2 separate regions of the Homo sapiens genome follow, and region 1 is linked to region 2. The links come from fine-mapping of genetic effects on gene expression. A gene starts in region 2. The other region holds a variant in brackets. All regions are shown on one strand. Distances are between the middles of the regions. Region 1 overlaps ZC2HC1A (zinc finger C2HC-type containing 1A). Region 2 holds the start of ZC2HC1A (zinc finger C2HC-type containing 1A).

Evidence for each region. PIP is the estimated chance that this variant, and not a neighbour inherited with it, causes the effect.
Region 1: its variant is fine-mapped to the expression of ZC2HC1A in tibial nerve (GTEx, PIP above 0.99).

Annotation. Positions count from the first base shown.
Region 1 is chr8:78,699,088-78,709,894 of GRCh38, reverse strand. All of the region lies in intron 7 of ZC2HC1A (zinc finger C2HC-type containing 1A), which reads right to left. It also overlaps a transcript of IL7 not described here. Among named protein-coding and RNA genes, the nearest start is that of ZC2HC1A, 38 kb to the right of the region's middle. The variant C/T (reference allele first, on the strand shown) is at 4,817.
Region 2 is chr8:78,660,424-78,671,230 of GRCh38, reverse strand. ZC2HC1A (zinc finger C2HC-type containing 1A) reads right to left here and starts at 5,142. Exons shown (of 9, transcript NM_016010.3): 1 at 5,067-5,142. The coding sequence starts at 5,082. LOC105375911 (a long non-coding RNA gene) reads left to right here and starts at 5,252. Exons shown (of 4, transcript XR_007060972.1): 1 at 5,252-6,226. RefSeq lists enhancers at 4,989-5,038, 5,003-5,510, 5,511-6,019 and a silencer at 5,109-5,328.

The sequences.
Region 1 (10,807 bases), 39 kb before region 2:
AATTTACCGGATGGTATTTTGTATCTTTGCACACCTCTGTTGTTATGATGCTATAAGGCAATCTTGTCCAACCAGCAGCTCACAGGCCACATGCCACCCAAGATGGCTTTGAATGGGGCCCTATACAAATTCGTAAACTTTCTTAAAACATTATGAAATTTTTTTTTTTTTTTTTAGTTCATCAGCTATCATTAGCGTTCGTGTATTTTATATGTGGTCCAAGACAATTCTTCTTTCAGTGTGGCCCAGGGAAGCCAAAAGATTGAACACCCCCCTGCTCTAAGGCAGTTTTGAAATGTGTCATACCTCTACTTTTGATCCTAAATTTATCAATCCTACACAAATAATTAGTATCTCAATTCCACAGCAAAGTTAGCTCCCTATCCAAAATCTCCAATCATTGTTATCCACATAAGAAACCGAGGTCTGGAATTCTAGGTTATCACAAGCATTTCTAGATCAACAATAAAAGATAAGTTCATAAAAATTCACATAACGCTCCACACAAATTCATTTCACACACATCAAAAGACTGGATTATGAAAACAGCATGTTTCCTATTCATATAAAAATGTACTCAAAAACTAAAGACATTTACTTCTTAATGTTTTAAATAAGGTATGAGAAACAAAATGCAATTTTTTAAATTAAAAAATGCTCCATACATGCCTTTGGTTGCTCTAATTTTAGGTGTATTACAGTTGCTCTCCAAAGTAAATGTGCTTTTCATAGTAACTAAAAGGAAGTAAATCTCTGATATTTGATAGTTTCACTATTGAAAATTATTAACTGAGATATCCATTTAAACTGGTAATAAGGTACAACTGTGTAAACTCTAGGGAACAATTCAAATGGGGAAATATTTATTTAAAAGATCTGTGTTTCACTGTATTTCTAAAATTTCCTGGTATTAAAGATAATCATCTTTTGGCCGGGCGTGGTGGCTCATGCCTGTAATCCCAGCAATTTGGGAAACCGAGGTGGATGGATCACTTGAGGTCGGAAGTTTGAGACCAGCCTAACATGGTGAAAACCCATAAAAATTCAAAATTAGCCAGACATGGTAGCACACACCTGTCCCAGCTAATGGGGAGGCTGAGGCAGCAGAATCACTTGAATCCAGGAGGCGGAGGTTACGGTGAGCCAAGATCGCACCATTGCACTCCAGCCTGGGCAACAAGAGCAAAACTCCATCTCAAAAAAAAAAAAAAGAAAAAAAAAAGATAATCATCTTTTAGAAGAAGGGAAAAACTTTCTACTTGGGTGTGTTTTGTTGTTTTTTAAACAAATCTGTTAAAATTGACCTAGAAATTGATTTGATTGCTTTTTTTTACATTTAAAAAAAGGTTTAAAAAGGTTGTTTTTGTTTTTGTTTTTTTAATGGAGACGAGTTCTTACTATGTTGCCCAGGCAAGTCTCAAACTCCTGGGTTCAAGCGACTCTCCCACCTCACTCTCCCAAAGTGTTGGGATTACAGGTGTGAGGCACTGCACCTGGCCTAATCCACAAACTGTCTAGAAGCAAACAACCAAACATATGAGAATTTTTCTGAGTGTAAAAATAAATCTCTTTGTGGCATGATTCTATTACAGATCACTGGTATGCCTGATTAAAGTGGACTACAATAAAGATTACATACACCAGACTTTAAATAATTGCAATCCACTGAAATAACAGCATTTACTAATCTCAGCGAATGCTCAATTTATTGAGCATTACACCTGACCAAATGTCTTAATTCAACCTTTACTCAATCCTGAATCATCTGTATAAATCGAAATAACAGTTGTCATACAAACTTTAAGTAATTCTTTCACTGGTACCAGATGATAATTCTGTGACATGCCAATAGATTAACAGATGAGGGAATTAATTTATTATCTTTTTTCACTTAACCAAAAATTTTTTGTTAGCCTAGGCATTCTGCTAGATTTTAGTTACAAATGGAAGCAAGGCAGACATAGTCTTTGCCATCATGGAGCTTACAATCTAGCAAGAGAAACAAATCATTACTTCACTAATTCTTAAAAAAAAAAAAAGAAAAAAAAAGGAAGGAACTCTGTCACTAAATAGACAGCTATGAATGGTTCTAATTTAATACAGTAACACAATGTTCCAGTTAATATAGTAATATATTGGTAGAAATGAGCTCCACAGCTCTCTTTCCAGTAGTTGGAAAGCTTCCTTTAATCTGCAAGGATCTTATACAGAATGGACAATCAGAATTTGAACAGGTATGATTGACAGTTATATATGATGTGGGATAGCCAAAAAATATGTATTCTTCATGGCATTCATCATAAGCAATGCACAACTGACAAAATTATTGTACTCAAAATCTCTGCTTGTTAGCAAAAGCATATTTTCCATTAGTAACCAGGTATGTTGGTCAGATTTTCTTGGATCAGTTGTCAAGGTCTAACCAGAGTCACAGATGTTGTCACAGTCAGACAATATGTCACAGCATGACAAAGAGATACATGCCCAAAGCTATTTAGTGGCAGATTATGATGCAGAAACCTAGTCTTCTAACTCCAAGGTCAGCGCCTCTCTTCATTACACCAGCCAGCTTTACACGTCCTATCTAGGAATACTGTGTCAGTACAATTTAATATTGCCAACTGATAAAATTGCCAGTACTATAGAAATACTGAAAAATATCAGCTTTTAATCTATGATCAACTGTAAGTGAAACTATAAACAACACTATGAACAAATATTGTTACCTAACATGGAGGCCAATTCTCTGTGATATGGTAAAATGACTTTGTAAAATTAAAGCACATATTGCTATGTCTATACTTCACTTAATCATCCAATGAGTCAACTCATTGGAGAAGAAAATAAATCAGATCAGTTTCTTACCACTAAAAGATAAAATTTTTTTACTTTTCAACTACCTGATCTACTGATAAACTGTCTCTTTCTTATGGATAGCCTGTCTCTTGTTTTTGGAAGCACAACAATAAGAAAAATCACTTAACTCAAAAGATATTGTTGGTTGATTTTTTTTTCCTTTTCTATAATGATAATTACATTATATTCCTTTAGGTCTTCCATTTTCTATGTAGTCTGAATTGAGAAGCAAAATGTAGTTACTATCATTTGACAGATATCTTTGTATATATTTCCCACATAAAAACCAAAATGAATGTGAGCCACATATAACTTACACTTGAAAATAACAGGAAAAGGGGTGAGTAAATACAGCACCTTCATCTGAAACATCCATGTACTTGCATTGGGACTAATCAAGGAAACAACTTGACCCACAGAGAACAAAGAAAAGAGAGGCAGGATGACAGCCCACCTTGGAGCGACACAGAGCAAGGTGAACCTCTCTGGCCCAGGGAAGCAGTGAGTGAACGTGTGACCCTGGGAAACCACGCTTCTCCAACGGATCTTTGCAACCCTTGGGTCAAGAGACGCCCTTGTGAAGCCACTCCACTAGAGCCTTCAGTCTGACATACAGATATGGGGAGTCTTGGCAGAGCAGCTGCTCCGGCACAGGCAAAGACCCAGGAACTCCAAACTTCCCAGCAAAAGTAACTGCAACTCCAGCAAAGCAGGATGTTAGACCCCCGTACATACCCTTAGGAAAAAAGGCTGAATCAAGAGGACCAAGTAGAGACAGTCTGCAGGTCTCACTTTCATAACACCTCACAGGATAAGACCCACTGGCTTGGAATTCCAGCCAGCCACCAGTAGCAGTTTTGAGCCTACCTGGGATGGAACTCCCAGGGGAAGGGACAGGCTGCCATCTTTGCTGTTTGGGTGACTCAGCTGTTCTGCAGGCTTTGGAGAGTACAAACCAACCAGAGGCAGAGAGGATTCCCCAGCATAGCATGACTTCTTTACCAAAATGTGGTCAGACTGCTGGTTAAGCAGGTTCCCAATCCATTCCTCATCACAGAGCAGGACCTCACAACTGGGACCTCCAACCATCCCTGCTGGTATTCTCTGGCCCACAGAGAGCCAAAGCCAACTGGGACGAAAGTGGTAACCCAGCACAACACAGCTGCTCTAGGAAAGTGTGGCCACACTGCTTCTTTAAGTAAGTCCCCAATATTGCCCCTCCTCACTGGAAAGAACCTCCCAACTGGGACCTCCAGCCAGCCCTGCAGGTGTTCTCTGGCCTACAGAGATTTGCAAAGTCCCTGGGATAGAACTCCCACAGGGTGTGCAGGCCATCATCTTTGCTGTTTGGGCAACTTAGCAGTTTCAGTCTCTGGGGTTTGGAGAGCCCATGCCGACCCAGAGGTGGAAGTGGTACAACAGCACACCACAGTGGTCCCATAAAAATGTGGCCAGACTGCTTTATTAAGCAGGTTCCCAGTCCCATTCCTCATCACCAGGTGGAGCCTCCCAACTGGAGTCTTCAGCCACACCCACAGGTGTTCTTTGGCTGACAGAGGTTTGAGGCATCCCTAAAATGAAGCTCCCAGGAGGAGGGGCAGGCCACTACCTTTGCTGATTTGTAGCCTTCACTGGTGACACCTCCAGCTACTGAAAAATCCAAGGTGACTAGTGACTGGAGTGGACACCCAGCATACACAAGCAGCCCTATGGAAAAGTAGCCAGAGTTGTTCAAAAAAACAAACCCATCCAAAGGTAAGCAGCCTCAAAGACTGAAGTTAGGTAAGCTCACAAAGATGAGAAAGAATCAGCACAAGTATGCTGAAAACTTAAAAAGCCAGAGTGCCCTCTTTTCCTCCAAGTGACCGCATCACCTCTCCAACAGGAATCAGGCTGAGAATCTCCTCAGAATCAGGCTGAGGCTGAGACAGCTGAAATGAAAGAAGCAGAATTCAGGATA[C/T]GGACAGGAACGAAGTTCACTGAGCTAAAGCAATACATTGTAATCCAATGAAAGGAAGCTAAAAATCATGATAAAACACTGCAGGAGCAAACAGATGAAATAGCCAGTATAGAGAAGAACATAACCAACCTGATAAAGCTGAAAAACACACTACAAGAATTTCATAATGGAATCACAAGTATTAATAGCAGAAGAGACCAAGCGAAGAACAAATCTCAGAGCTTGAAGACTGGCTTTCTGAAATAAGACACGCTGACAAGAATAGAGAAAAAAAGGATGAAAAGGAATGAACAAAAGCTCCAAGAAGTGTGACATTATATAAAAAGACCAAATCTATGACTGACCGGTATATCTGAAAGAGATGAGGAGAATGGCACCAATTTGAAAAACATATTTCAGGATGTCATCCATGAGAACTTTCCTAACCTAGCTAGATGGGCCAACATTCAAATTCAGGAAATGTAGAGAACCCCAGTAAGATACTCATGAGATGATCATCCACAAGACACATAATCATCAGATTCTCCAAGACTGAAATGAAAGAAGAAATGTTAAAGGCAGCTAGAGAGAAAGGCCAGGTCACCTACAAAGGAAAGCCCATCAGACTAACAGCAGACCTCTCAGTGGAAACCCTACAAGCCAGAAGATATTGGGGACCAATATTTAACATTCTTTTTTTTTTTTTTTTTTTGAGATGGAGTCTCACTCTGTCACCCAGGCTGGAGTACAATGGCGCAATCTCGGCTCACTGCAACCTCTGCCTCCTGGGTTCGAGCAATTCTCCTGCCTCAGCCTCCCAAGTAGCTGGGACTACAGGTGCACACAACCACACCCGGCTAATTTTTGTATTTTTTTTTTAAATAGAGACAGGCTTTCACCACATTGGTCAGGCTGGTCTTGAACTCCTGACCTCAGGTGATCCGCTCGCCTCGGTCTCCCAAAGTGCTGGGATTACAGGCGTGAGCCACCACACCTGGCTAACATTCTTAAAGAAAAGAAATTCCAACTCAAAATTTCATATCAGGCCAAACTAAGCTTCATAAGTGAAGGAGAAATAAAACCTTTTTCAGACCAGCAAATGCTGTAGGAATTTGTTACCACCAGACCTGCCTTACAAGAGCTCCTGAAGGAAGCACTAAATATGGAAAGAAAAGACAATTACGAGCCACTACAAAAACTCAATGAGGTACACAGACCAGTAATACTGTAAAACTGTTAGTTACATAAACAAGTCTGCCAAATAACCAGCTAGCATCATTATGACAATCAAATCCACACACATCAATACTAGTCTTAAATGTAAATGGGCTAAATGACCCAATTAAAAGACACAGAGTGGCAAGTATTTTGATAAAGAACCACGATCCATTGGTATGCTGTCTTCAAGAGACCCATCTCATGCAATGACACACATGGGATCAAAATAAAGGGATGGAGAAAAATTTACCAAGCAAATGGAAAACAGAAAAAAGCAGGGGTTGTACTCCTAATTTCTGATAAAACAGACTTTAAACCAACAAAGATTTAAAAAAAAAAAAAAAAGAAGGGTATTACATAATGGTAAAGGGTTCAATTTAACAAGAAAAGTTAACTATCCTAAATACAAATGTACCCAACACAGGAGCACTCAGATTCATAAACCAAGTTCTTAGAGACCTTCAATGAGACTTAGACTCTCACACGATAATAGTGGGAGACTTTAACACCTCACTGACAATATTAGACAGATTATCAAGACAGATAATTAACAAATAAATATTTAGGACCTGAACTCAGCACTGGATCAAATGGACCTGATAGATATTTACAGAATTCTCCACCCTAAAACAACAGAATAGTGTTCTCATCACCATCTGGCACATACTCTAAAATTGATCACATGGGCCAGGCGCGGTGGCTCATGCCAGTAATCCTAACACTTTGGGAGGCTGAGACAGGCAGATGACCTGAGGTTAGGGGTTTGAGACTGGCCTGGCCAACATGAGGAAACCCTATCTCTACTAAAAATACAAAAATTAGCCAGGTGTGGTGGCACATCCCTGTAATCCCAGCTGCTCGAGAGGCTGAGGCAGGAGAATCGCTTGAACCCAGGAGGCAGAGGTTGCAGCGAGCCAAGATCATGCCACAGCACTATAGCCTGGGCGACAGAGTGAAACTCCATCTCAAAAATAAAATAAAATAAAATAAAATTGATCACATAATTGGATGTAAAACATCCTCAGTAAAAGCAAAAGAACTGAAATCATAACAAATATTCTCTCAAACCACAGAACAATTAAATTAGAAATCAAGATTAAGAAATTAACTCAAAACCCTACAACTACATATAAATTGAATAACCTTCTCCTGAATGATTTTTGGATAAATAATGAAATTAACGCAGAAATCGGGAAGTGCTTTGAAACTTAGAGTACAAAGAAACAACATACCAGACTCTCTAGAACACAGCTAAGGCAGTGTAAAAGGGAAATTTATAGGACTAAATGCCCACATCAAAAGTTAGAAAGATCTCAAGTTAACAACCAAAGATCACAACTAAAAGAACTAGAAAAACAAGAACAAACAAATCCCAAAGCTAGCAGAAGACAAGAAATAGTCAAAATCAGAGCTAAACTGAAGAAGATACATGAAAAACCATTCAAAAGATCAACAAATCTAGGAGCTGCTTTTTAAAAAATTGATAAAATATATAGGCTGCTAGCTACACTAAAAAGAAGAAAATAGAGAATATTCAAATAAACACAATCAGAAATGACAAGAGGGGTATTACCACTTGACCCCATAGAAATACAAGTCATCACAGAATATTATGAATACCTCAATACACATAAACTAGAAAATCTAGAAGAAATGGATAAATTCCTGGACACCTACACCCTCCCAAGACTGAACCAGGAAGAAATTGAATCCCTGAACAGACAAATAACGAGTTCTGAAACTGAGGCAGTAATAAATAGCTTACCAATTGAAAAAAGCCCAGGACCAGATGGATTCACAGCTGAATTCTACTAGATGCACAAAGAACTGGTACAATTCCTACTGATATTATTCCAAAAAATTGAGAAGAAGGGACTCAACTCTAGTTCATTCTATAAGGCCAGCATCACCCTGATACCAAAACCTGGCAGAGACACAACAAAAAAGGAAACTTCAGGCCAATAACCTTGATAAACATCAACAAAATACTAGCAAATCAAATCCAGCAGCACATCAACAAGCTTATCCACCAGGATCAAGTAGGCTTCATCCCTGGGATGCAAGGTTGACTCCGCATATGCAAATCAATAAATGCTATTCATCACAACAAAATTAAAGACAAAAAGCACATGATTATCTTAATAGATGACGAAAAGGTTTTCAATAAAATTCAACATCCCTTCACGTTAAAAACTCTCAATAAACTAGGTATTGCAGGAACATACCTCAAAATATTAGCCACTTATGACGAATCCACAGCCAACATCATACTGAATGGGAAAAAGCTGGAAGCATTCCCCTTGAAAACTGGCACAAGACAAAGATGCCCTTTCTCACCACTCCTATTCAACATAGTTTTGGAAGTTCTGGCCAGTGCAATCAGGCAAGAGAAAGAAATAAAGGGGCATCCAAATAGGAAGAGAGGAAGTCAAACTATCCCTGCTGGCAGATGACATGATCATGTATCTAGAAAACCCCATTATATCAGCCCAAAAGCTTCTTAACCTGATAAGCAACTTTAGCAAAGTCTCAGGATTCTAAAATCAATGTGCAAAAATCACTAGCATTCCTATACACTAATAACAGCTAAGCAGAGAGCCAAATCAGGAACAAACTCCCATTCACAATTGCCACAAAAAGAATAAAATACCTAAGAATACAGGTAACTGGGGAGGTGAAAGATCTATACAAGGAGGACTACAAGCCAATGCTCAAAGAAATTAAAGATGACACAAATAAATGAAAAAATATTCCATGCTCATGGATAGGGAGAATCAATATTGTTAAAATGGTGATACTGCCTAAAGCAATTTATAGATTCAATGCTATTCCCATTAAACTATCAGTGACATTCTTCACAGAACCAGAGAAAACTATTTCAACATTAATATAGAATAAAAAATGAGTCAAACTAGCCAAGGTAATTCTAAGCAAAAAGAACAATGCTGGAGGCATCATGCTGCCTGACTTCCAGCTATACTACAGGGCTACAGTAATCAAAACAGCATGGTACTGGAACATGGACCAGTGGAACAGAATAGCAAGCCCAGAAGTAAGACCACACACCTACTACTATCTGATATTTGACAAACCTGACAAAAATAAGCAATGGAAAAAGGATTCCCTATTTAATAAAAGGTGCTGGGATAATTGGCTAGCAATATGCAGAAGACTGAAACTGGATCCCTTCCTTCCACCATATACAAAAATTAACACAAGATGGATTAAAGACTAATGTAAAACCAAAAACTATAAAAACCCTGGAAGACAACCTAGCCAATACCATTCAGGGCACAGGCAGCAGCAAAGATTTTATAATGAAGATGCCAAAAGCAATTGCAACAAAAACACAAATTGACAAATGGGCTGTAATTAAACTAAAGAGTTTCTGCATAGCAAAAGAAACTATCAACAGAGTAAACAGACAACCTACAGAATGGGAGCAAATATTTGCAAATTATGCATCCAACAAAAGTCTAATACCCAGCATCTATAATTTAACAAACAAACTTACAAGAAAAAAACAAACTTACAAGAAAAAAAGAAACTTACAAGAAAAAAAACAAACAATCCCATTAAAAAGTGGACAACAGACATGAACAGACACTTTTCAAAAGAAGACATACATGCGGTCAACTGTCATATGAAAAAAAGCTCAACATCACTGATCATTAGAGAAACGCAAATCAAAACCACAATGAGGTATTATCTCACACTAGTCAGAATGGCTGCTGTTAAAAAGACAAAAAATAACAGACACTGGTGAGGTTGTGGAGAAAAAAGGAATGCTTATACATTGCTGGTGGGAATGTAAATTACTTCAGCCACTGTGAAAGACAGTGTGGCAATTCCTCAAAGACCTAAAGACAGAACTACCATTTCCCCCAGCAATCCCATTACTGAGTATATACCCAGAAGAATATATATCATTCTATTATAAAGACACACACATATGTTCACTGCAGCACTATTCATAATACTGAAGACATGGAATCAACCTAAATGTCCATCAATGATATACTGGATAAAGAAAATATAGTACATAAACACCATGGAATACTATGCAGCCATAAAAAGGAATTAGATCATGTCCTTAGGAGGGACATGAATGGAGCTGGAGGCCATTATCCTTAGGAAACTAACACAGGAACAGAAAACCAAATACTGCATGTTCTCACTTATAAGTGGAAGCTAAATTATGAGACTACATGGACACATAGAGGGGAACAACACGTACTGGAGTCTTTTGGAGGGTGGAGGATAAGAGGAGAGAGAGAATCAGGAAAAATAACTGATGGGTACTAGGCTTAATACCTGGATGATGAAATAATGCATACAACAAACTCCCTATGACACAAGTTTACCTATGTAACAAACCTGCACTTGTATCCCTGAACTTAAAAGTTAAAATTAAAAAAAGAAAATAATGTGTGCTGTATTTCATTAATCAACTGAACCAGTATATGTAAAGATATAGACATACACCTTCATTCTAATGGTCCTGTGGTAATCCCTTAATTTTCTGATTTATCAAAATAAAAAATAAGTAAATTTCTAAAAATATATGGCTCTATATTAATATCTCCACTGTTACAATTTTTCCCATAACTATTGAAAGTTTAATTATATACTTCATTAAAAGCCATGTAAATATAACAGTAGAAAAATATAAAAAAGGATTAAATTAAGAGAATCACCCCACTGCTTCTATCATACTACACATGGAGTTCAGTAGCTAACATTTTCCTAACAGAATCACCTTATTAAAATTTATATACATACTATAGTTGCAAA
Region 2 (10,807 bases):
ACTTGAAATGGTATCTTTATCTAACACTATAAGTGATGAGAAATAAAGATTTTATTTCAAATAGTTGTGACATTTTAAAATGCATACATTTAAGAACTATGAGAGAACATTTTCAAAGAAATCTTGGAAATTAAGAACAGTTCTGGCCTCCCTTGTGGCATGTCCATCTCCTCACTGCTGGTAAGTCTTATATTCTATCACCGTTCATTTGACTCCTTTAACACTCAACAAATCTTTCTTCTGAAGCACTAAATATGTTATATCACTTTCTTCCCAATATCCTTTCCAAAATCGAATTACTTTCAGATCAATATTATCCAGTGTCTCAGAAGATTTACCCTTTTCAGCTCATCCTAGAAGAGTTTTTGTCTTAACCTAGTCAATGCCTACCCGACTCAACACACAACCTTCATCCTTCACAGCATTTTAGTCACCTACACTCTAGTTCAGCAAAACTACTGCCAAAACAACCAACTCTGGACTTTAAAACACTCAAGTTTCCTCTTTAACCATAGAATTCTACCTCCTACCTTTCTCTAAGTTACTATCTTGATCTCAGAGTGACTTGCTTTTCTTAATAAGTTCATTCCTGGCTGCATGTCCTTTCCTACCCAGTCTGAACATGACCCATCATTTATACTAGGAATTATCCACGAATCCCTTGCTACATGGCCAAATGTTTGGAAAATGGTACATTAACCTAAGTTAAATGGGTTCTCTTAGAGCAGAACTCCCTTAGTCTTAAAAAAAGAAGCTTAGTATGTTGTTATTTGCCCAAATTTATTTTATCAGAAATCCTTTGTACTCCCAAAACCAATGTTCTCCACCAATGTCCTGATGAGCACATTTTTTGAAACACTAACTTACATTTTCTGCTTAGTCCTTCTCTGCCTCTCATTCACTCACTGTCTGAACTGCAGGGAGACATTATCAGGCCAAGCACTATATTGAAATACATCCATTCCGCCGAGTGCGTTGGCTCACACCTGTAATCCCAGCACTTTGGGACGTCGAGGCAGGCAGACCACCTGAGGTCAGGAGTTCGAGATCAGCCTGACCAACATGCAGAAACCCCATCTCTACTAAAAATACAAAATTAACTAGGCTTGGTGGCACATGCCTGTAATCCCAGCTACTCCGGAGGCTGAGGGAGGAGAATCGCTTGAACCCAGAAGGCGGAGGTTGTGGTGAGCCCAGATCATGCCACTGCACTCCAGCCTGGGCAACAAAAGCGAAACTCCGTATCAAAAAAAAAAAAAGAAAGAAAGAAAGAAAGAAAGAAATACATTCATTCCTTGATTCAATAAGTATTTGTTGAGCACCTAGCATGAGGCAGAAACTGTTCTAGGAGGTAGGAGTATAAGGATGATAAAAAACAAATACTCTGATCTTATAGAGCTTTCACTGATCTAACAGGGAAAAAATGAATAAAAACTAATATATAAAATGTTACATGGTGATAACCACAATGAAGGTAGAACAAAGTAAGGGGAGAAGAGATGGTCATAATGCTGTCTTGGAGAAGTATGGATAATCAGGGAAAGTTTGTTTAATAAGGACACAATAATGACATTAAAAAGGAAGGTAACGGATTACTATTTACTAATTGTCAAATCTGAAGCTCTCTTTTGAATCCCCATCCTACTGGGCCTTTCTACAGTCTGAGCCACTGCTGACAAATCTCTTTCACCTTTAAAGTCCTTTCTCTCTTGGCTTCAATGTTTCCTTCGCTCCTCCCAAGCATGCTATGTTTTACCTATACTGGACCTGCTAACATGCTTTTTGTGATTTTCGCCATCTAACAAACACACACTGAGAGGGCCTCCTATGCACTAGGTACTTAGCTAAATGTTTTACATATATTACATTATTTAATACTTAATATAATTTAGGTAGTTACATATTTAATAGCTCCATTTTTTTCATAGCAGGGAAAATAAGGGTTCAGATTAAGTAAACTGCCCAAATCATAGAGCTAAAAAGAAACAAAGCAAGGATTCAAACACAGTCCTCTCCAATATACTGTCTATTAAAATATCTGGCATCCAACTCACTACCAAAAAGCAGTAAATGCTAGATAAATTAATAAAGATAAAGAATTATACAGTAAACTAGTATACATTTATACTACGAAAAAATAAAACAAAACAGAAATTTTGATGAGACACGACTATCTTTAAACCAAGGGCTACACTGAAGAGCAATCAGTCTTCTAATCAAGTTTTAGAGGGCAGTACTAAGATCTAATAATTTCAACAATCCACAAGAGGAACGGACAGTCTGATCTCTGCCACAATTTTTATAACCATTTATCAGGGATATGAAGGGAATGACAATACTGTATATAAGGATAAAATCTGCTTAGATTTTACCATCTCTCCATTTTACAAATAAAAAAAGCTTATAAGAGATTGGAACTCTCTCAAGTCTAGAACTACTTCTATTATCCTTAGATAGATTTTGTGGGGCACAAATTTTATTAGATGAAAAGGAATTAAAAGGTTTTGCTATAACTATCTACAGAATGTAGAAGTGCTCAGATATTGATTCTACAAAAACAGATAACTTATATTTCATTTCAAAGTATAGTGTTTGAGCCTAATACCTCATCTATTGACTATTCAAGAAGCATAAAGACCCTGAAGACCAAAAGTAAAACAAATGGTATATGATTACATGCAAATAACGTAAGTTATAAGAAAGAGTAAGATTATCTTTAATAGAAATTTTCAAGAGTCCATATATTTTCTTGTTTTATAGCCAAGATTAATGTCTGGTAACTGGTTTCAACTAGAAACATATGTCTAATGCCAGAGTACAATATTTACGCAATTACTCTGACACATTAAGCAAACTTTTGAATATTTCTTACTGGATACTGCAATATAATATTTATTAAACACCTTCAAAGTACTAGACTTTAACTTCCAATAGAGGTAAGAAACTACCTAATCTATCACTGTATCAATGTTTCTAGAATGAAAGAATGGATGAATTAATGAACGGTAACCTTAAGACTCAGAGTTTGATATTTGCAAGGTGTGATCTCTTAGGGGAGGGAGAGGGGAGAAGGAGGAAGGAGAGAAAGGCACCATCCTAACTTCAACAGAAAATTCTCAAGAGCTTTTATTAGATTGAACTGCTTGAAATTACCAGAATTCAACTGTTTTGCCCTACATAATTTAGGGCAACTTCACATATTTCAACTCAGTTTATCACAATTAAACACATTATAGTTAATGATAGCATCTTATTTTGTAAAAAAAAAAAATCTAAAAGTAAAGGGCAAGCACTATTAACATCATAAGCTGGGCCCTATAACATCATAAGCTGGACCCATAAAATATGCCTATAAATACAGAATCCTACCTTTGTCCACCTATGCAACTGAGTGTCATAATAGGTTTCCATTATATTTTAAAAACATTCGTAGTAAGGTTTCAATAGTAATATCTTAGCACTGTTAAAATGTAAGGTCCACTAAAATGTAGGTTCGATGAGAGTAAAGCTTTATCATTTTTATTCTTTGCTGCAACCTAGAACCTAAAAAGATGCCCATAATAGACATTTATTTAACAACAAATATTTATTGAGTACCTACTTTGTGTCAGACATTGTTTTAGGTGCCTAGGATACATAAGTGAAAAATCAGATGATGATCTTTGTCTTAATAACAAATGTTGAATAAAATAATAAAAATCTGCAAACTGTTCAAAACACTTTATAGATAATATGTAATAAAACCTTATCATATTATATATGATAATCTCATGAGAATTCCATAACCCATGCTTTAATCCCACCAAGATACAAAAGTATCTTGAAAGTAAAATATACTGTACTATCATTACAATTCCTTATTTCATGGAAACTTGAATTATCTTCCAAAAACACATAAGCAAAAAACAAGACCTTCATTAGGCCATAGCATACTGCAGCTGTCCACAAACGGAAAATTATCAGAATCATTTATCAGAGCAAAAGCACGAAATAAACTTCTACTCATGTTATTACATCTGCTTTTTGGTGAATAGGTGACTGAAAAAGTTACCGGCTACCACTTTGCACTTCATCACACAATGTAGAATATTTTACTCCCTGGCATGCAACAATACACAAGACTCAAAAGCTTCTGCTCATTCTTAATTCCAACTGAATCCGTGTAAACTAGGAGACGGGGGAAAGGAGCTAAATCAAGACAATAGGATCTTTCAATTCTGAAGGTTTGTTCTTCATCATAACAAATTAAAAAATCTTGAAACTGTTGTTGCCAATGCTAGTTATTGTGGTTTTTGTCCTTCCTTTGTTTTTAGGTGAATGCTTTCATTACACAGGATAAAATGGGTAAACAGAATAGAGAAAAAGTGAAAGAACTGGGAACAAAGCAAAATCTGGAGTCATGGTTACAGTACAAAGATAAACCCAAAGATAAGGAACCAATACAGGCTCTTCCTCACACAGCGGCCGTGAATAAGTCATCAAATCCTCCGGGTAATCTATTGTACCGGCTCTAAAGCTGGCCAGTGACACTTCCTTAGGAGATGCTCTGACATCCCTCCGACAGAAGATGCTGTCGAAATGTAAAAAGCCGGTTACCTAGGGAAATCGGCCAAGGAATGTCAGGAGCTCGAGGCTGGAGACACACCCCGGGGCTGCAGCACAAAGTGGCCTGTTGGTGTTAAGGCCGTGGACAATAATGGAGAGAGTCCAGTACAAGGAAAACAAAATCTGGCCAGAGACTGGGATCACTAAAAGGGCACTCAGGAGTCAAGCAAGATCAGAAAATGGTAGGAAGAGACGTGCAGGCGTCTTGCCAGGGGCAGGATCTGGCTCCGGGCGGGAAAGCCCAGTTGAAGACCGTCTGAGGCGGGGCAGCCTGGTAGCGTTAGCTCCACCGCATCGGGGACTGTCCGGTTCCCTTCGGCCCCAGCCTCCGGAGGCGCGGCGGGACGCGGCGAGGTCCGCCGCACCGAACCAGCCCTCGCCTTCCTGCTACTGGTGTCCAGGGTCCCCAGCTGTTTCGGGCCCGCTCTAGCCGTCCTGCCCTCATCCCTTCATCGCCTCACCTTCCAGTCCCTCCATCGCGCCACCTCCTCGAGCTCAGCGAGACTCCTTCAGCAGCGCCCGCCACCGCCCAGCTCTGGCTGTAGCAACCCAGCCGCACCTCCCACCCGCTAACATTCCGAGCTCCCATTGGTTCCGCAACTGCGGGGGCGGGGATCCGTGGGGGCGGGGCCGCGGCGGAGGCGAGGTTCCTGCGGTCTCCTCCTGGCTGCCACCCCTGTCCGTCTCTCCGGGTTACTCTCCAGGGAGCCGGGAGCCGCTTCAGGTTGCAATCTGCGATGCAACGGCGCCTTTGTTTGACTCCAGCCTTGTTTTGCCTCATACCTTATCCTCCTATTTAGAGTACCTCAGCACCTCATGGGCTCCGCTTCACCAGTTCCTCAATCAGTCAATGCCTCTGACTTCTAGCCGCCATCCCTCCCAGTGGATACTTTAAGCAGGCAAGCAAACCAAACAAACGCCCAGCACGCTTGCATGCAGCAATCTCCGTTTTCCGGTCTTTGGTCGCATGACTTGACCTCAGCGTATCCCCTACACTTGATCTTCACACACAGCTTCATAGGTTAAGACACTTTTTTTCCAGAGAAATCATACTTTCTATCTGCGATTGTGGAACTGCGATTGCTCTAAGCCCTTGAAAACAGTTTCCTCACCATGAAAGCTTGGGCCAAAAATTAGAAGTGAAACCCAGCCCTCCCTCTGTCTTCTACTCTTGGCCTACCTTGGCCCTATACTTTATCATCCATAAACCAAAACAGTCGCCTGGCCTGACAATGTTTGATCGGGGAAGTTTGAGTTGGGGAATTAACCTACAACCTGACAGAATGAGGCCCGCCCGTCTCTAACAGAGTTCAAAACCTCCTGAAGATGAAAGTAACTTCAAAACTAACTCAGACCATTTTAACGGTTTTGCTTACAATTACCAGAACTACATTTCTTTGAAAATTTGATTTAGCAATCGTAAACAAGCTGTACTGTTTGCTGACTATAGCGTATCTACTGGCAAGTTACCAGTATTAATGTGTTGTCCATAACAAACCTCGGATTAATGTTATTGTTAATCTGTTTAATTGAAGAGTTTAACTTCATATCTAACTTCATCTACTATGAAATCAGTTACCTTCAGGAAGCAGGATTCCTCCTACTCTCCACTCACATGAAGGTATGTTTAAACAAGCAAACACTTGAGGGGGCATCATCTCTTACTGAGAAGGTGCTCCAAGTGCATTTGAATGTGGTAGAGTCCATCTGTTGTGTGGAGCCATGTAAAGACCACTTCAACCATGCCTCAATGACTCCCTCCGCCCTTCCCTGGTTCCCCTGGCTCTTCTGCTTCTCTGAGATCCTGGGCCTCCTTGGCCAACCCATAGCCTTGCAGGCAATAAGCTACTCTAGACTGGGTGCTGCGGAAAGGTCCTTTTTCTTCCTTAGTGCTACTAAGGCAAAGGTAGAATTTTTGGTTGGGAGGGAAGGCCTTTTAAAAGAGCATTAAGGAGAAAAAAAAGCACACAGAAGAAAATACAAAAATAAGGAAGCCATTATTTTACAAATTACAAGTTCTTTCACTGAAGGCAAGACGAATATTGAGTTGGCTGATACCTTATTCGACATAAAATCTACAGTAACATTAAAAATAATAAAAATAGCATTAAAGAATAAATCATGTGAGGCATGTTTTAGGCCATTTTCATATATTCACAAATCTTCAAAAGAAATCTACAAAGTAGATACTACAATCTTCATTTATCAGAATTAAAATGTTCATTTTCTAGATGTCTCAGAGCAATTAATATTTTGTCAATATTTGTATTATTAGTGGATGGTAGAGCTTGGCTACACTCTTGTCTGTTAAATTCTAAAGCCTATGGTGATTTGATTGGGCTCCTCACTCCCTTTCCTTGCCTTGCCTTTTATTATAGCTGCCTCAAGTGTAAACCCAAGCGTTCAGACATGTTGTTTAACATATATTTGAGTAGGCATTTCTATTGTGAATCTTAATTCTCTAAAACATGATTGCTAGTCTTCCCTACAGGTATCTTCATAACTTTTATGCTTTTGGTCTCTTCATAACTTTTACGCTACAGCTACCCTGGCTCCTGCAGCTTTTCCCTGATTCTGACCCCTGAGTAAAGAGGACTTCTTCCTATCTGCCTTCAATAAGTTCTTTCCTCTGCCGCCTACATACCTAGCCTGAGAGTCTTGTCTTGGCACTGTATCATGACATTACTTCCTCTCCAGTCTAATCCATTTTTCGGCATGCATTCATTCAACAAATGTTTGTTGAGTACCTTCTATGCTTCAAGTCCATTTTATCACTAGCCAGTTACTCAAATGAATGAAACTCAGCTTCTTCTCATGTTTTTAAGCACTTACCTGTACATAATTTTTCTACCTGCCATGTGATCTTGTTAACTGAAAATAACATTTATAGATCAATAAGAATTCGAGATCTTCTGACCTCCTTATCATACAAAAAGGAAAACAAACTTTCAGAGATGTTTCTGACTTGGTCAAGATCACAAAACTAGTACTTAACTGAAATAGATATTGTATCTGTGTTTTATTACATCATACCTTGATTCTTTCCACTTTGCATTATATTGCTTTCAACCACCATTCCCTTAAGCAGATCCACATCTATTCTGCACATCCCAAAAAGCTGAGCAAGCTGCATATAGCTTCTTGTTTCAAAGCTCCAGTCTCTTAAATCCCACACGAAGTTCAAGTCCCCTTTTAGAGAAAGCCATTGGTTCTCATTCATATCATTTGCAGAGCACAACTAAATGAGATTCTGAGTCTCGGTGAGAACTCAGTTTATCACCTCCACTATGTAGGACATTTCTTCCTTCCATGACCAGAAGAGGAATAACCTACCACAATTTAGCATATAAAAATAATTCATACATTTGGTAATCATAAGAAAATGATAATTTTCATCAAAAACATAAGAAAATATTTCCCTTAAAACTGTTCTAGAGGGAGGAAGCATATTCTGAGTTGGCTCTTGCTAGTTTTATTTGAAGTAAAAATAAAATTTTCTAAGTGTTCAGGGGGAAAATAGTGATAGTTTCTCATGGCCTGGAATAATCAGAAAGCATATAGGTAGGCTGTCACGGGTGAAGATTTATTGAAGGAAAAATGTCCTAGACAAGAAACATCAAGAAAAGAAAGAGGGGCTTTAAAAAAGTGAGGAACTTAAAGCAAACTTTACCTACTACATTGATTGAAAGGCTATTCCATTCATAGTGTGATAGCAATTATTCTAGCTCTATGCTTCCCTACTTTCAAACTAATTTTCAGCTGCAAAAAGATCAGTTTTTTTTTTCAAGTTTCGGCTATGATCTTGCCTATCCATCCCTTTGCATCACAATTTCAAATCTTAACTAAAAATCTATTAACCAAAATGTTTATTGAGGTCCTCTCTAGACTAGTCCATTTTTCTGATGCATTCTTTCAACAAATATTTGTTGAGTACCTTCTGTGCTTCAAGTCTATTATATCACTAGCCAGTTACCAAAATGAATGAAGCTCAGCTTCTTTTCTTACGTTTTTAAGTATTTGTCTGTGCATATTTTTTTTACCTGCCATGTGATCTTTTTAACTGAAAATAACATTCATAGACCAATAAGAAATTGAGATCTTTCAACCTTGAGTACAACACTGCTCTAGGCACAACAGAAAGCTTCAAAGAAATCTCTCTGATCTCTAGAAAGTTAACATCTAGTAAAGGAAACCGTGAGCAAGACATAATACAGGGCAAAAGAGTTGTTAATAGTATTAAGTTTTAGATGTTGTGGTACAGCTTATAAAAGCAATTGGTTACAGGAAGTCATTTACATGAATGGAACAATTTTAAAGGTTTTTTAGAAGTAGAACTTAAATTGTGTCTTGAAGAGTGTCATAGGATAGGTAGAGATCACTGAGGATGAGGGAAACATGGCATAATCCTCCTTAAGAAAATGATGCAAGCCTGGCATGTTTTGGGACAATCTAAAGAAGCAAGGAAAATATTTGTATCTATTTTGGTTCATGTGTAACATTTGTTTCTCTTTACATTATACAGCACAAGCATTATGGCTATATAATTTATATCTTTTTAATCTTAGGGGCAAGGTGTTGAGTTAATGATACTCACTAACACACAGTACATACTTCAACTATCCATGCCAAGGTATCTCTTTTATTTTCTTTTTATTATTTGTCATTCATACCCCATTTTCACACAATTTACCAGCCTCCTCACTATAGGCACAATTCTATTACATATAGATGTCTTTGGATAGGTGTGATTCTTTGAAACACATATGGTGCTGTTTTATATATGCATCTGTTTTTAATTTACATAAATGGCATTAGTCTATGACTTTCATTCTGTTTGTAATTTTAATTTTTAAGTAATTTTCATTATTTAATTTTTGAATTTAATGTTTTTTGTCATTCATTCAGAGATTCATCCATGCCACTGTATGAAATACAAGTTTATTGCTTCTGATGTTGGATAATAGCATTTTACCGTATGCATACACCACCACATCTTACTTACTCATTTCTGTAGTGATGGGCACTGAGTTGGTTCTAACTGCTGCTACAATGAACATCTTTGTGCTTGTCCCCTTATGAACCTGGGCTCAAGTTTCTCTGAGATGCATCCTTGGAATAGTTTACTGGATCATATTCACTTCCACTAAGTACACCTAGATTTCTCTCTACAATAGCTATACCAGTGTACATTCCCATCAGCAGTGCAGAGCACTCATCTTTCTATGGCTCAGTAATAGCTGACTTAGCTCTAATTTTTTAATCAAGAGTTGGTCTTTTCTTCATATACTCGCTAATTCAGATTTGACTTTCAATGAATTGCCTGGTTTTGTATATTGAAATTCTCATCTTTTTCTTATGGATATGTAAATTCCTTGTGTATTCTAGATGTTGACCCCTGCTAATTTCAATTATTTAAAAAATCTTTTCCAGTTTGCCAAATACTTGATAATTTTGTCTATGATACCTTTCACTGAACAGAAGCCCATAACATTAATTCTATAAAATCTGTCAATATATTTTCTTTATGAATTGTGCATTTTTTAATTAAAGTTTTCTTCAGATTCTAGATTATTGATGGTATTTGCTCACATGTTTTTGTATTAATGCTATCCTTTTTATCTTTCTTAATGAGGTTTTCAACCCATCAGGAGTCACCTTTGTATATTATATGTGTTAGGAATCAACTGTATTCTGCATATAATGAGTCCATTTTTCCAAAACTATCTCTAAACAGAAAAAGTAAATATAGACGTCACAGAATTACAAATACAAAAATATTATGAACAGCTTTGTTTCTATAAATGTAAAAACTCAGAGGAAATGGATATCATTCTGGATAAAATTAAAAATTGTGACAAGAAACTTGAGTAGAATGAAAACTGTTAATAAATTGAAATGGTAAAGACATCTCTTCACTTTAATGCCCTAGGTGGAGAAAGATTTGCAGGTGAGTTTTACCAAACTTTAAGACACAGATAATTTATATTGTGTCCACATTTTCAATAAAATTTAAAAAGAGGAAAAGCTTATAAAAGCTTATAATTAATTTTTTAACATTAGCATAATTCTGACTCCAAGCAATATAAAAGCAATATATGAAAAATTATAGGATTGTCTGTATATTGTATATACAAAAGTCATAAAAAAGATGTTAGCAAACCATATTCAACCAAATTATTATTAAATAAAATCTATACCAAGA